Regions from separate parts of the Homo sapiens genome. Here region 1 is linked to region 2. A link means that fine-mapping ties the variant in region 2 to the expression of a gene that starts in the linked region. Tissue or cell type: whole blood. Region 2 holds a variant in brackets; the other region holds the start of a gene. All regions are shown on one strand. Distances are between the middles of the regions.

The links. PIP is the estimated chance that this variant, and not a neighbour inherited with it, causes the effect.
Region 1: PELATON starts here. The variant in region 2 is fine-mapped to the expression of PELATON in whole blood (INTERVAL, PIP above 0.99). The same link has a PIP of 0.9 or more in blood mononuclear cells.

The regions. Positions count from the first base shown.
Region 1 is chr20:50,262,618-50,270,719 of GRCh38, reverse strand. PELATON (plaque enriched lncRNA in atherosclerotic and inflammatory bowel macrophage regulation) reads right to left here and starts at 3,242. Exons shown (of 4, transcript NR_170992.1): 1 at 3,057-3,242. LOC105372656 (a long non-coding RNA gene) reads right to left here. Exons shown (of 3, transcript XR_936835.3): 3 at 6,474-6,518.
Region 2 is chr20:50,177,085-50,185,186 of GRCh38, reverse strand. CEBPB-AS1 (CEBPB antisense RNA 1) reads left to right here. Exons shown (of 7, transcript NR_125739.1): 7 at 1-584. Among named protein-coding and RNA genes, the nearest start is that of LINC01273, 8.6 kb to the right of the region's middle. RefSeq lists an enhancer at 5,518-6,017. The variant C/T (reference allele first, on the strand shown) is at 4,568.

The DNA.
Region 1 (8,102 bases), 86 kb before region 2:
GAATCCCCAAGGGGAAGTTGGCCGTGGTGGATTGCCACCTTGCCAGACAGCTCGGGTGCTTGCGCCTGAGTGAGGCAGGCCATCGCTTGGGGTCCTCTGTTTGAACAATAGGCACCACAGCTCAGGAAAAGGGGAAACAAAAACAATAACCATCGGACAAGATACCCCCAAAGGGAACACCGAGCATGGACCAAAAGTTCCTAAATTCCATTCCTTGCAACTGTCTCCTTCCAGACTCCTGGAGGTTCTGTGATACGGAAAGAAGGTTCCAGGCTCCAGTGCCCATTGCTCTGGGCATGATGGAGGCTCGGAGCTGCTCTCCCCACCACTGGGACACCCACCGTCATCCAGGCAGTGATCCTGGAAGAGGAAAGGTGGTGACCTCAGCCCAGGGGTCACCTTGGGACCCAGACACCATCCCTATGGACTGCATCTGTGGGAGGACCCACGGAGCCCGGCGCCAGCTGCTGCGTTCTGCGCACTGCCCTGTGCTGGCCCCATGCTGAATAAGACACAGTCCCCACTTGCCGAAGCTGACCTTTGGCAGGTGTGGTAGGGGTGGGCAGGGCTACTTTCAGGGATGGTCTGGGAGGCCTCTCTGAGGTGCACAGGCCCGAGTGAGGGGATGGGGCTGATCATGGAAAGATCCAGAAAAAGAGCACCCAGGAGAGGTGGGGCAAAGCTCTATGTGTTCTAGCAGGAGGAGGGAGGTCACTGCGGGCAGGGAAGAGGGGAGGGGAGGTGGGGAGGGGGAAGGCCATGCAGGGCTGTCCTTGGGACCAGAGCAGGGACTGTCTTTCTCTCTGAGGGAGGTAGGAGTAGGGTTTGGAGTGAGGCAATGGTGTGACCTGACTTGGGTTCCAACAGGAGCCCTCTGGCTGAGTGTGGAGGGCTGTGTGGGGTGGGTGGGGAGTCCAGGGCGGAGATTCTGCCCAGGCAGGCGAGCAATGACCAGACAGAGGAGGGAAGACTTGTCGAGTTCTGGATTCAGTCCACAGGCAGAGCCGATGGAATTTGCTGAGGATTGAATGTTGGGGTTAGAGAGAGAGGAGTTAAGGACAACTCTGGGGTCTGAGGCCTGGCCCACTGGGTGGGTGGCAGTGCTGTCTTCTCAGCTGGGAAAGACATCCATGTCTCCCAGTGGGGTGCGCCCCTGGGACACCCATGGACAGACTGACAGAGCCCGCATAAAGGCACGAGGGACCCCGCACAGCTGAGCTCACGGGGCAAGGGTCAGATGAAGGCAGGAGAGGGGTCGTTTTCAAGGCCCAAGGAGGAACGGGCAGGGAAGTAAGAGGAGAACCAGCGAGACCAGCAAGCCGCCATCAAGAGGCTGGGGAAGACTGTGCTCAAGGAGGGGGCAGTTACCCAGGGGGCAGACGCTGCCAAGAGGACCAGCCAGAGAAGGCCGAGCAAACCCAGGCCCACTGTGCCACTTAGGCCGTCAGTGAGACTCCAGCTGGTGGCCAGCCCAGCCGTGCCCCCATCACCTTCGGAGCCCACATCTCTTTGGAGCAGCCAGACAGGCTGAACCCTAATTGGCCTGAGTCAGCCACGGGAATTCCTTTCTGGTTCAAATGTGGACATGTGAGCCCATCATTCCATGAGACACCAGGGGACATCCACTGGGACATGTAAGAAAAATTGTTGGCTGGGCACGGTGGCTCACGCCTGTAATCCTAGCACTTTTGGGAGGCTGAGGTGGGTGGATCACCTGAAGTCAGGAGTTTGAGACCAGCCTGGCCAACATGGTGAAAATTCATCTCTACTAAAAATACAAAAAATTAGCTGGGAGTGGTGGCCCACGCCTGTAATCCCAGCTATGTGGGAGGCTGAGGTAGGAGAATCGCTTGAACCCAGGAGGCGGAGGTTGCAGTAAGCCGAGATCGTGCCATTGCACTCCAGCCTGGGCAACAGAGCAAGACTCTGTCTCAAAAAAAAAAAAAAAAAAAAAAGTGAGATCCTGGAGGAGAAAGTCCCCTTTTCTGTTCATCTCTTCCTAGTTAGGATGTGATCATGTGGGACGTGATGTCTTGAGCCACAGCAGGCACTGGGGCCCATGAAGAAAGAGAAGTGAAGAGATGCCTACCTAGAGCGCAGGGAGCCTGCCCTGGAACACTGGAATGGCCCCACGTTAGACTTCATGTTATAAGATTTAATTAATATTTTTACTGTTGCAGTCATAGAAGATGGCCTAATTGGGGCAAGAGGAAACATAGGAATGAACCTGAGACAGGGGAGAAAATGGAGAGAGGAGGGATGAGAGCTGGAAGGGGGTCAGAAACACCCAAGCACGGGGTTCAGATGCACAGCAGGCTCCCTAAGTGTGAGTTGCTGTTTCTGCAAACAGGAGTTGTTCCCTGAGCACCTACTCTCTACCAGGTACATTTCCAAGCCCTGGGTGTCCATCAAGTCCTTTAATCCTCCCAGCAGTGCCAGGGAGGCTTCATCTGCTCCCCACATCTCTGCTTCCCCCGCCCCATGTTCAGATTCTAAAAAACCAAAAGGGCTCCCTCTAATTCATCTCGCCCCCAGAGAGCACTGACTCCCCACGGTGTCCCACTGAGCCCCACTGAGTCCAGTCCACCTCAACTTTCCTGCCTCTGGGAACAGGGTACCCACCCTCTGAGGGCCCCACTTCCCAAAGTTCTTTGTCCTGGCACAGCAGGTGCTGAGTAGCTCCCTGGACCTCTGTTTCCGCATCTGTAAAAAGCCACTAATCCTAATTGCACCTCCTAGGCTGATTGTGATGACCCAGGAAGGACCCTTGACCCAGTGTCTGGCCTGTAGTAGGGCTCGGTAAGCGTGAAATCTGATTATTGCCCATTATATTTATGGTTATACACAGGGCTGGCCCTGCCTCCTGCTGGAGCCGTGGGTCTGTCCAGGTTGAGAAGCTGAGGTGCTTGGAGCGTCCCCAGATCCCAAACAGGGAGCTGGAGTAGGAGGCGGGAGCATGAAGTCTCCTGGGCCCCGCCCGCCACCTCGCCCTGCCGCCCCTGCTCAGCAGCCGCCCCGCCCTGCCACCTTGGTCTCTGAGAACCCATTGTTCCTACCTGGCTCTGCTCCAGGGTCCTGGCCTTGCCACTTTCCTCTAGGATCCCCCGCCACCCCCGGGGCTTGGGCCTCCCCGCGGGGTCCTAAATTGGGTGCCAGATGTGGCAGCTGTCCAGCAATGGGAACAGGAGCTGGAACCCCAGCTCTGCCACATCCCAGCTGTGTGACCTTGGGCGCTTCCCCTCTCTGAGCCTCAGCTTCCTTGTTGGTTAAATGGGATGACGGGACCTCACAGGGCTGTCATGAGGGTTTCGTGAGCCCAGGATGGCAGAGTGCCCAGCATGTGGTAGGGCTCGGGAACATTCATCCTAATTTCTCTGCTCCTCACGGGCCTAGAGGAAGAGCCAGGAACATCAGAGGCAGTGGCCAGAGTGGGTAGAGCACTGGAAGGGGAGTCTAAGGCCAGGGTCCCGGCTCCAACCCTGCTGTGTGACCTCGGGCAGGCTGTGGGTATCTCTGGGCCCCAGAATGAGGGAAAGAAGTAGCTGGGATCCTCCTTCCTCCCCAGGAAGCAAAGCAGAGGGGTGGTGCCAAGTTTTCTTTTCATTTTTTTTATTTTCAGCACAAAGGGCTCAAATGGAAAGCAGCTGCAGAGACAGAGAATCCGATTGTGAAGGCACCCGAGACTCCAGGCAGGCGGAAGAGGCAGCGTCTTGGGTGCTGGGCTGGGTAACAGAGGCCAGGGTATTGACCAGAAACTCCAACAAGCAGGGGACAGCTTGGGGGGTGGGGGGTTGTCTCCCACCCCTTCTTCAGGGTGCTGGCCTAGGAGACAGGGACCCCGCCTCGGGCATCTCCTGCTTAACCTCAGTTTCTGTGTCCAGACATGGGCAGGCCATCCTGACTCTCTTAGCCTTGGTTTCCATCTCCAAAATGTGTCCAGTAGTGGCACCTTCCTTCTAGGGAGGGGTTGTGTGGTTAAGGTCTCGGGGCGGGCTCCTCAGTCAAACAGGCTTGGCTTTGATCCTGCCTCTGCCTCTCACTAACTGTGTGACCTGGAGTAAGCCACCTCCCCTCCCTGTGCCTTGATTTTCCCATCTGTGAAATGGAAACAATAATAGAACTAATCTGCTGGGGAGATGAACTGAGAAGACTCAGCCTGGTGCCTGGAGCAGAGTAAAGACTAATGATTATTGTTGTCTTTCTTTTTGGAGGCAGAGTCTCACTGTGTTGCCCAGCCTGGAGTGCAGTGGCAGTGGCGCGATCTCGGCTCACTACAAGCTCCACCTCCCAGGTTCAATCATTGACCCTCCAGCCTCAGCCTCCCGAGAAGCTAGGACTATAGGCTCACACCACCAGGCCCAGCTAATTTTTTGTATTTTTAGTAGAGACCAGGTTTCACCATGTTGACCAGGCTGGTCTTGAACTCCTGGCCTGAAGTGATCTGCCTGCCTTAGCCTCCCAAATTGCTGGGATTCCAGGTGTGAGTCACCGCGTCCAGGCATCTTTCTTATTATTATTATCCCAGGAGCTCCACCTGCTAAGGCCCCAGCCTCAGAAAGCCTCCCTTCCCCTGAGTGCTGGTTCATCTCAACAATTTCCTCACATATTTCTTGAGCAGCAACTATACCGGTCTTGGCAAAGCCAAGGTTCTATCTAGGAGAAGAAAGACATTAAATGAAGGACCCGTGTGTGAAGGGCTTGGTGAGTAGCAGGGGCTCATTGACACTGTTCACCAGCACCTGCCCCCTCAGCTGCTCTGTGCTGGACTCTTTCTGGGCTCTGGGGACACAGTCTTCAGGGGAGTCCCAATCAGAGGGTCTGGGTGGAGGTGAGAAGCTGGTGTGTGGATGAGGCAGTTTCTCACACTGTGGCAAGGTCTGTGATGGAGGAAGTCCAGGTGACTTTGGGAGCTAGAGGTCAGGATGGGCTTCCTGGAGGAAGTGGTTAGGAATGAAAATAACATCTATTCAGCATTATTATTATGATGTGTCAGGCACTGTTCTCTCCTCAACACCCCGCTCCAGAAGGTTTTCTTCTCACACACCCATTCTACAGGTGAGTCTGGGATCAAAGAGGCCCAGTAGGGTGTCAGAGGTCACGTAGCCAAGACATGGCAGAGCTGAGATGAAACCCCGCAGTGGGACACTGCCCCACTTGCCCCCCGACAGCGCTCTCCAGCCTCCAGGCCTTTGCTCCAGCTCTTCCTTCTGCCCAGACATTCCAGACCCTGCACCGTCTCATATCCACTCTGCTGGAGGAATGAAGAGAACAGCCCTTGGAGGCCGCAAAGTGTCCTCAAGCCTCAGTTTTCCCATCTATGAAATGGGGATAGCATGGGGCTTTCCTCTCGGGCTGCAGAAAGGATCGAGAAAAGGCTTATTATTCACCTAGGGCCTAGCCCTTGGGAACCAGTCCGGAAGGACAGCTGTTATTATTGCTAATGCTGTTCCTATCACAGTGACAGCGTGTCCCGTTAGGCCTGCAAACCCCTATACCTCAGTTTTTCCTGTAATGAAACCTGCCTGCTGAGGCCTCGGTGAGGGCTCATTTAATGATAATCTTTAGGGAAAAAAAATACACCCCCCAAGCCGCCTGTGTGGCTGCAGCCCACAGGGGTAACCTGACGCCCCTCGCCTGACCTGGCCCCCAGGTCTTTGTGTGAGTCCTGCCCAGATTACTGTATTTGTCCAAACCCAAAGCCAAGGCTGGCATGAGCTCAATGCTCTGCATTGTGCCAGAGCCAGGCCCCCCAGGCCTCATCCCTCCTCCCGCTGGGGATCCGGCCCCCAGGAGGTGTCACAGGGGAAATCGGAAACCCAGCAGGGCCCACTGGGGTGGCCTCCTGGGTGCCAGGCCCTAGGCTTACGCTCCTTGCGTGTTGCCTCATCAATCCTTCATGACCTCACTGTGCAGAAAGGCACATGCTGTGCCCATTTTCCAGATGGAGAGAATGAGGCCCGGGTAGCCAAATTGTTGCTACAGTTCATGCCGGTGGAAGTGGCAGAGCTCAGGTCAGGCTGAAGGAGGACCTGTCCCCAGAAGAGGAACCTGGGAACCCTGGATCTTCAGCTGGAGCCAGGCATCTTGGGGAGCAGAGATGAAGGAAAGCCGAACCATGTGGCAGGGGGCACCATGGCTAAGGATTCCGCCCTGAGTTCAAGTCCAGCTCTGCCACACGCCCTGCACAGAAACCTACTCCTCTCTGAACTTTGCTTTCCTGAACGAAAAAAATGGGGGAGCAGCTGAGCACGGCAGCTCACGCCTGTAATCCCAGCACTTTGGGAGGCCGAGGTGGGAAGATCACTTGAGGTCAGGAGTTTGAGACCAGCCTGACCAACATGGTGAAACGCTGTCTCTGCTAAAAAGACAAAATTAGCCAGGCGTGGTGGTGGGCACCTGTAATCGTAGCTACTCAGGAGGCTGAGGCAGGAGAATCACTTGAACCTGGGAGGCGGAGGTTGCAGCGAACCCAGATCGCGACACTGCACTCCAGCATGGGCAACAGAGCGGGACTCCATCTAAAAAATAAGTAAATAAATAAAAAGTAACAATAACAATAAATAAATAAGGGAACAATAGCTTTTCCTCAGGGGCTGGGAGAGGACTCAGGCCATAAGGTAGGTGAAACACTTAGCAGGTAGTAAGTGCTCAATCTACAGGAGCTTAAAAACCCAACCGCATCCTCCATGGGGAAGAATCTGTCTCCTGCCTGCGGGTCTGAGATTCCAAAACACTGAGGAAATTTGGCTCCAATGGGACCTGGTATTTGGGGAGGGAGTTAAAAAGGAGGGGTGGGGAGCAGTTTTTGGAGATCACTCTCTCCTAGGAGTTCCCTCCCCTCTTCCCAACTTCAGTTTCTCCATCTGACCAGGCTCCTGCCCAGCCCCTCCTAGAGAGACTAGTTTCGGGGCTGATTTTGTTGTTTGCTGTTTTTTTCACATCTGCACATACAATCACTCAGTCTAGTGTGTCTCACATGCCCGCATGGAGCCACTGTGTGTGCACTGTTGTGGTTTTTCATTTTTACTTTTCTGCAAAAGCCTTCTTTTTTTCCCTTGGTGACCATTGAGAATGGATTCTTACCTATTTTTCTGTAAGAATGAAAATCCCATACAGACTGTCTGCCCGGACAAAGGGTTTCTTTATCTGTCATTCCTTTTACAAATCAGAATCACATTGGGCATCCTTTTCTGCATCTTGTATTTTTCACTCAAGAATACCCACACAAGGCCAGGAGCGGTGGCCCATACCTGTAATCCCAGCATTTTGGGAGGCTGAGGTGGGCGGATCACTTGTGGCCAGAAGCTTGAGACCAGCCTGGCCAACATGGTGAAACCCAGTCCTCTACCAAAAATACAAAAATTAGCTGGGCATGGTGTCGCACGTCTGTAATCCCAGCTATTCAGGAGGCTGAGGCACAGGAATCGCTTGAACCCGGGAGGCAGAGGTTGCAGTGAGCCGAGATCATGCCACTGCACTCCAGCCTGGGTGACAGAGCGAGACAGTCTCTCAAAAAAAAAAAAAAAAAAATATATATATATATACACACACATACACACACACACACACACACACACACACGAAACAAGCCCTTGTATACCAATTACCATAGCAGCACTAGTCACAGTAGCCAAAAGGTGGAAACAACCCAACTGTCCATCAGTCGATGAATAGATATGCAAAATGTGATCTAGCCATACAACAGTATTTGATCATTTTTTAAAAATGAAGTACTGGTGGGGCGCAGTGGCTCACGCCCGTAATCCCAGTACTTTGGGAGGTCAGGGCAGGTGATCACCCGAGGTCAGGAGTTCGAGACCAGCCTGGCCAACATGGTGAAACCCCGTCTCTACTAAAAATACAAAAATTAGCTAGACGTGGTGGCACATGCCTGTAATCCCAGCTACTCGGGAGGCTGAGGCAGGAGAATCACTTGAACCCGGGAGATGGAGGTTGCAGTGAGCTGAGATCATCCCACTGCACTCCAGCCTGGGCGACAGAGTGAGACTCCATCTCAAAAAAATTAAAATTAAAAATTAAAAAAAAATGAAGTACTGATGCATGCCACAACGTGGAAGAACCTCAAAAACATTAGGCTAATT
Region 2 (8,102 bases):
AATAAAAACAACTCAATTAAAAATGGGCAAAGGACTTGAATAAACATTTCTCCAGAGAAAACTGTGAATGGCTAATAATCACATGATAAGATACTCAACATCACTAACCATTAAGGAAATACAAACCAAAACTGCAATGAGGCGCAACACTTTGGTGGATCACCTGAGGTCAAGAGTTGGAGACCAGCCTGGCCGACACGGTGAAACCCCGTCTCTACTAAAAATACAAAAATTAGCTGGGCGTGATGGTACGTGCGTATAGTCCCAGCTACTTGGGAGGCTGAGGCAGGAGAATCACTTGAACCTGGGAGGTGGAGGTTGCAGCAAGCCAAGATCACGCCACTGCACCCCAGCCTGGGCAACTGAGTGAGACTCCATCTAAAAAACAAACAAAACGCAATGAGAAGAGAGGATTTTGAATGTTCCCGACACAAAGAAATGATAAACGCTTGAGGTAATGGATATCCTAATTACCCAGATTTGATTATTACACGTTGTATACATGTATTGAAATATCATTTTGTAACCCATGAACATGTACAATTATGTGTCAACTAAAAATAAAAGGAATAAAACACAATGAGATACCACCTTACGCCCATTAGGCTGGCTGCTGCGTTGGGAAGGATGTGTAGAAACTGGAATGCTTGTGTAGCTACTGTGGGAAATGGTATGGCTGTTCCTCAAAAAATTAAAAATAGAATTACCAAATGACCCAGCAATTTTATTTCTGGGTGTGTATCCAAACGAATTGAAAGCAAGATCTTGAAGAGATATTTGTACACTCACGTTCATAGCAGCCTTCTTCACAATAGCCAAAAGGTGGAAGCAATTAGCTGGGTGTGGTGGCGGGTGCCTGTAATCCCTGCTACTTGGGAGGCTGAGACAGGAGAATCGCTTGAACCTGGGAGGTAGAGGTTGCAGTGAGCTGAGATCGCACCACTGCACTCCAGCCTAGGTGACAGAGCAAGACGCCGACTTAAAAAAAAAAAAAAAAAAAAAAAAAGAGGTGGAAGCCACCCGTGTCCATCGATGGACGAATGGACAAAATGTGATGTGTCTGTACAATAGAATGTTATTTAGCCTTAAAAAGTAAGGAGATTCTGACACAGGCTACAACACGGATGAACCTTAAGGATATTGTGCTAAGTGAAATAAGCCAGTCACAAAAGGACAAATACTGCATGATACCACTTACATGAAGTGCCTTGAGTAGTCAGATTCATAAAGACAGAAAATAGAACAGTGGTTGCCAGGAGCTGAGGTAGGAGGAAGTTCTTGTTTAATGGATATAGAGTTCCATCTTTGGGAAGATGGAAAGAGTTCTGGAGATGGATGGTGGTGACGATTACCCAACAGCGTGAATGTCCTTAATGGCACCAAACTGTGCACTTAAAATGGTTAATATGGTAAGTTTTATGTTCTGCGTATTTTACAATTTGAAAAAAAAGGCCAACGTGGGCCAGGCGCAGTGGTTCACACCTGTAATCCCAGCACTTTGGGAGGCCGAGGCAGGAGGATCCCTTGAGCCCAGGAGTTCAAGACCAGCCTGGGCAATACAGTAAGATCTCTTTTTTTTTTTTTTTTTTTTTTTTTTTTTGAGACGGAGTCTCGCTCTGTCGCCCAGGCTGGAGTGCAGTGGCGCGATCTCGGCTCACTGCAAGCTCCGCCTTCCTGGTTCACGCCATTCTGCCTCAGCCTCCCAAGTAGCTGGGACTACAGGCGCCCGCCACTGCGCCCAGCTAATTTTTTGTATTTTTAGTAGAGACGGAGTTTCACCGTGGTCTCGATCTCCTGACCTCCTGATCCACCCGCCTCGGCCTCCCAAAGTGCTGGGATTACAGGCATGAGCCACCACGCCCGGCCTCTCATTTCTAACAAACAAACAAAAGATGGATCTTCACCTGTGGACAGAGAAAGATGTCCACTGGCATTGTGACTTGAGAGGCAACAGGCAGGGCAGGGGCCTGGTAAAGTCACGTTTGTCTTGAAAACCTTTGCCATTAGCTAAAACGTTTTTAAAATGTGAATGACACGCAGTGTTGATGGTGTGGAAAAACAGGCACTCTTACAGCTTCAGTCTTTGTGCGAAGTGGCGTAACCTCCAGTTCTAATCTGGCCATGCCCATCAAAATGGGAAATGTCGCAGCCATAAAAAATGAGAGTTCATGTCCTTTGTAGTGACATGGATGAAGCTGGAAACCATCATTCTCAGCAAACTATCGCAAGGACAAAAAAAACCAAACACGGCATATTCTCACTCATAGGTGGAAATTGAACAATGAGAACACATGGACACAGGAAGGGGAACATCACACACCGGGGCCTGTTGTGGGGTGGGGGAAGGGGGTAGGGATAGCATTTGGAGATATACCTAATGTTAAATGACGAGTTACTGGGTGCAGCACACCAACATGGCACATGTATACATATGTAACTAACCTGCACATTGTGCACATGTACCCTAAAACTTAAAGTATAATTTAAAAAATAATAAAACAAAATATAAAAAAAGGAAAAAAACAAAATGGGAAATGTCACTGGACCCAGAAATGCAAGGCATTTATGCCACCAAGACACTCACATTTGCTTAAAGAAAAATGGAGAACAGCAAATGCTTTGCAATAGCAAAAGCTTGTGAGGTAACGTCAGTGGCTGTCATTACCAAAGAACACTAAGAAGAATGAGGTAGCTCCATGGGAGAGGACTTAGACCAGCACTGTCCAAGAGAACCTTCTAGAATGATGGACATGTTCTCTATCTGGGTTGTATCATACGGCAGCTATCAGCCATGTGTGTCTATTGAATTCCTGAAATGTGGCTAGTGTACTTGAGGAACTGAATTTTTAATTTTATTGAATTGTATTTAAATTTAAATTAAGGCTGGGTGCAGTGGCTCACACCTGTAATCCCAGCACTTTGGGAGGCCAAGGCGGGTGGATCATGAGGTCAGGAGTTCAAGACCAGCCTGGCCAAGATGGTGAAACCCCATCTCTACTAAAAAAAAAAACCCACAAAAATTAGCCAGGCACAGTGGCAGGTGCCTATAATCCCAGCTACTCAGGAGGCTGAGGCAAGAGAATCACTTGAACCCGGGCAGCAGAGGTTGCAGTGAGCCGAGATCATGCCACTGCACTCCAGCCTGGGCAACAGAGTGAGACTCCATCTTAAAAAAAAAAAAAAAAAAATTAGCCGGTCATGGTGGTGTGTGCCTGTAGTCCCAGCTACTTGGGAGGCTGAGGCAGGAGGAGTGCTCTACTTTTAAAAAATACATAAAAATTTAATCTTTTAAAATACATTTAAATCACCTCCTGGACTAGCGACTACTATATTGAACAGTACACATCTAGAACAATCTCCAAGATCTATCATTAATTGGAAAAAAAATAAAAGCCAAGAGCAGGCCGGATGTGTGGTGTGCGAACCCCACATAAATGAGGGGAGGAGTGGAAATGTACTCACGTATTCTTTTTGGTTTGTTTATCTGTTTAGAAACAGGGTCTCACTGTATCACCCAGGCTGGACTGCAGTGGCTGTTCACAGGGAGATCATAGCACACAAATTCCTGGGTCTGGCGATCCTCCCACCTCAGCCTCCTGAGTAGCTGGGACTGCAGACGTGCGCCACCGCACCCAGCTTCATGTATTTGAGGATGCAGAGGCTCATGCTGGAAGGGTCATAAGAAACCAGCAACAGTAGTAGCCCAGGGCCGGGGGTTCTGGCTGCCACCATGTAACACTGCACCTCAAAACTTAGTGAATAACGCTGCAATAACCGTGCAAGCGCAGATATTTCTTCAACATACTAGATTCATTTCCATAGGATATGTGCAAGCGCAGATATTTCTTCAACACACTAGATTCATTTCCATGGGATATATACCCAGTGGTGGGGTTACTGGATTATATAGTAATGCCTTTTTTTTTTTTTTTTTTCAAAACAGAGTCTCACTTTGTTGCCCAGGCTGGAGTGCAGTGGCATGATCTCAGATCTCAGCTCACTGCAAATTCCACTTCCCAGGTTCAAGCAGCTCTCATGCCTTAGCCTCCCAAATAGCTGGATTACAGGTGTGTGCCACCACGCCCTAAAAATACAAAATAAAAAATTTTTGTATTTTTAGTAGAGACAGGGTTTTGCCATGTAGGCCAGGCTAGTCTTGAACTCCTGACCTCAAGTGATCCACCCACCTCGGCCGCCCAAAGTGTTGGGATTACAGGTGTGAGCTACCACGCCCGGCCAGTAATTCTGTTTTTTAAGGGCTTAAAATAACCACCAGTATATTTGCTCACGATCCTGTAGGTGAGGAATTAGGACAGAGCATGAGGGGACGGCTTATCTCTGCTCCAAGCGTCCACAGTGGCTTCTGTGCTCCACGTGTGGCACCTCACGGCTGGCCCGAGTGGCGGATGGCTGGCTGGACCATGTGTCTGCTGCCTTAGTTCATTCCTCAGTGCTCCCTCTGGCAGTTTCTTTCTCCCCATGTGGCCTCTGCACATGCTGCAAGTTGTCCCTTCAAGTAGCCTCTCCTCCTGGCCTCTCTTGCCCTTTCCATGTGGTCTCCTCAGCA[C/T]AGTCTTTTTTTTTTTTTTTTTTTTTTTTAAACCTTGCACTTTTTGCAACCAGCACAGACTTCTTACACAGCTGCTGGCCTCCCCCAGAACACAAAAGTGGAAGCTGCTGCTTAAGACTTAAGCCAGCCAGGCGCGGTGGCTCACGCCTGTAATCCCAGCACTTTGGGAGGCCGAGGCGGGTGGATCATTTCAGGTCAGGAGTTCAAGACCGGCCTGGCCAACATGGTGAAACCCTATCTCTACTAAAAATACAAAAATTAGCCAGGCGCAGTGGCACGACCCTGTAATCCCAGCTACTCAGGAGGCTGAGGCAGGAGAATCACTTGAGCCCAGGAAGGGGAGCAGAGGCTGCAGTGAGCCAAGATTGAGCCACTGCACTCCAGCCTGGGCAACAGAACAAGACCCTGTCTCAAAAAAAAAAAAAACTCAATTCACCATGGGGCCTAGCGTGGTGGCTCACGCCTATAATCCCAGCACTTTGAGAGGCCAAAGCAGGAGGATCACTTGAGGCCAGGAGTTCAAGACAAGCCGGTCAACATAGCGAGACCCCCCCGTCTATACAAAAAAATCCAAAATTAGCCAGGTATGGTGGTGCGCATCTGCAGTCCCAGACATTCAGGAGATTGAGGCAGGAGGATCTCTTGGGCCCGAGAGGTCAAGGCTGCAGTGAGCCATGACTGTGTCACTGCACTCCAGCCTGGGTGATGGAGCAAGACCTTGTCTCTAAAAAGAAAAAAAAAAAATGTTTGCCATGGACACGTATGACCTTATGATTGGTTGGGTCCAGAATGTTGCCCGGTCCTGCTTCCACACCTTGGTTGTGCTGTTCCCCTGCCTGTAACAGTCTTCCTTTCCATCCCCAGCTGTCGAAATGCCCAGGGAAACGTTCCCTGAATGCCCAAGTCCGTTACTCTCCCCTCCTCCAGGCTCCAGCTGGACTTCAGGCCTCTGGGCCTCACTCCATCCACCCTACTGGAGTTAGTGTTGTGTAGTCTCCCTCTCCTGGGAACCCCTCTAGGGTCTGCGCAATCTTGGTCATCTCTGTCCACACACACATACAGTGGAATCATGCAGGTGCTGAGTAGGTGCTCAGTGACTTGAGGGCCCAAACCAGGAAAATACACATTTGCCCAACCCACCTTCCCCAACCCACCCCACCCCACCCCCACGCCCCGCCACAGGCATCATGGGTTGCGCTGCCTAGAATGGCCACAAGGTGGCGCGGGAGCCCCGCCTCCGATCTCTGCAACCTCTGAACTGGGAAACAGCTTCAGACTGGGGTTCCTGAGGGCCAGAGACCCCCGGGAGAGGGGGCCTCAAGCCCAGCTTTAAAGAGAAAGCTTACAGGCCAGGCGCGGTGGCTCACGCCTGTAATCCCAGCATTTTGGGAGGCCCAGGCGGGCAGATCACCTGAGGTCAGGAGTTCGAGACCAGCCTGACCAACATGGTGAAACCCCCGTCTCTACTAAAAATACAAAATACAAAAATATTAAAAATACAAAAATTAGCCCGGTGTGGTGGTGCATGCCTATAATCCCAGCTACTTGGGAGGCTGAGGCAGGAGAATCGCTTGAACCCGGGAGGCAGAGGTTGCGGTGAGCCGAGATCGCACCATTGCACTCCAGCCTGGGCAAAAAGAGTGAAACTCGGTCTCAAAAAAAAAAAAAAAAAGAAAGCTTACTGCCTACTCCCCTCCTCAAATTCAAAATTTACTTCCTCTTCAAGTAAATGGACTTTAATTATAGGCGTGCCAGCACTGATAGCTGCAACAATCTCTGAAATCTTGTTTGAGTGAAAGATGCCAGATGCCAAGAACTTCCTGTGTGATCCCATCTGTTTAGAGCTCTAGAACAGGCAGAACTCACCCATGAGGAAAATATCAGCACGGTGGTTGCCAGTTGGGGGAGAGCACAACTGAGGAGGGGACAAGGGTGCTCGCTGGGGTGATGGTGTGTGTTTCGTGTGAGTTTCCTAAGGCCGCCATGATAAGATACCACAAACCCAAAACAACAGAAATTTATTCTCCCCTGAAACCAGGGTCCTGCTCCCTCTGGAGGCTCTGGGGAAGAATCCCTCCTTGCCTCTTCCATGGTGCTTGCCCGCCATCCACCATGTTCCTTGGCTCTAGCTGCCTCACCCCAATCTCTGCCTTAATCTTCCAACGGCCTTCTTCCAGTGCCTTCTTCCCTCTGTGTGTTCACCTCCAAATCTCCCTCTCCTTTCTCTTATATAAACACCAGTCATTGGATTTAGAGCCCCCACAATCCAGAATGATCTCATCTTAAGTTGGGTTCATCTGCAAGCCCCTATTTCCAAATAAGGTCACATTCACAGGTCCCAGGGGTTAGGACTTGAACATATCTTCTTGGGGGACACAATTCAACCCACTGCATGTTTAACATCTTGGAGGGAGTTTGGGCAGTGCAGGTGGATGCATTTGTCAAAAGTAATCAAAAGTGGCTGGGCGCAGTGGCTCACCCCTGTAATCCCAGCACTTTGGGAGGCTGGGGCGGGTGAATCACTTGAGGTCAGGAGCTCAAGACCAGCCTGGCCAACATGGTGAAACCCCATCTCTACTAAAAATACAAAAATTAGCCTGGTGCAGTGGCAGGCGCCTGTAATCCCAACTGCTCAGGAGGCTGAGGCAGAAGAATCACTTGAACCCTGGAGGCAGAGGTTGCAGTGAGCAGAGATCGCAACACTAGACTCAGCCTTGGTGACAGAGCAAAACTCCATCTCAAAAAAATAATAATAATAATCAAAAGTACACCTAAAGGTGCAGTTCACCAAATGTAAGCTTTACAGACAGAGAAACAAATATTTGACTCTAGTTAATGACGTGCACACTGACATCTTGACATGCACACTGACATCTTGAGGGGTATCTGCAGCTTACCCAATTAAATGTTAAAAATAAAACAAGCCAGCCATGGTGACTGCCACCTGTAATCCCAGCACTTTGGGAGGCCAAGGCGGGTGGATCACTTGAGGTCAGGAGTTCAAGACCAGCCTGGCCAACATGGTGAAACTGCGTCTCTACTAAAAATTAGCTGAATGTGGTGGCGCACGCCTGTAATCCCAGTTACTTGTGAGGCTGAGGTAGGAGAATTGCTTGAACCTGGGAGAGGGATGTTGCAGTGAACCGAGATCGTGCCACTGCACTCCAGCCTGGGTGACAGAGTGAAACTCCATCTCAAAAAAATAACTGAAATAAATAAATAAATATAAAAATAAAACAGATTAATGAATAAACAGAGGTAGAGCCCCACCAATGCCACTTTTGAGAATCTATCCTGAGGAGCTCATCATGAAAATAACTCAAGCCTGCTCCTCACCACACATTCATTTAGGCTTTTCTTTAGATAAGATCTCTGTAGCCCAGGCTCAAGTACGTCGGCACCATCACAGCTCACTGCAGCCTCAACACCCCCAGACTCAGGTGCCCTTCCCTCCTCTGCCTCCCAAGTAGCTGGGACCACAGGCACGCACCACCATGCCAGGCTAATTTTTTTTTTTTTTTTTTTGGAGACAGGG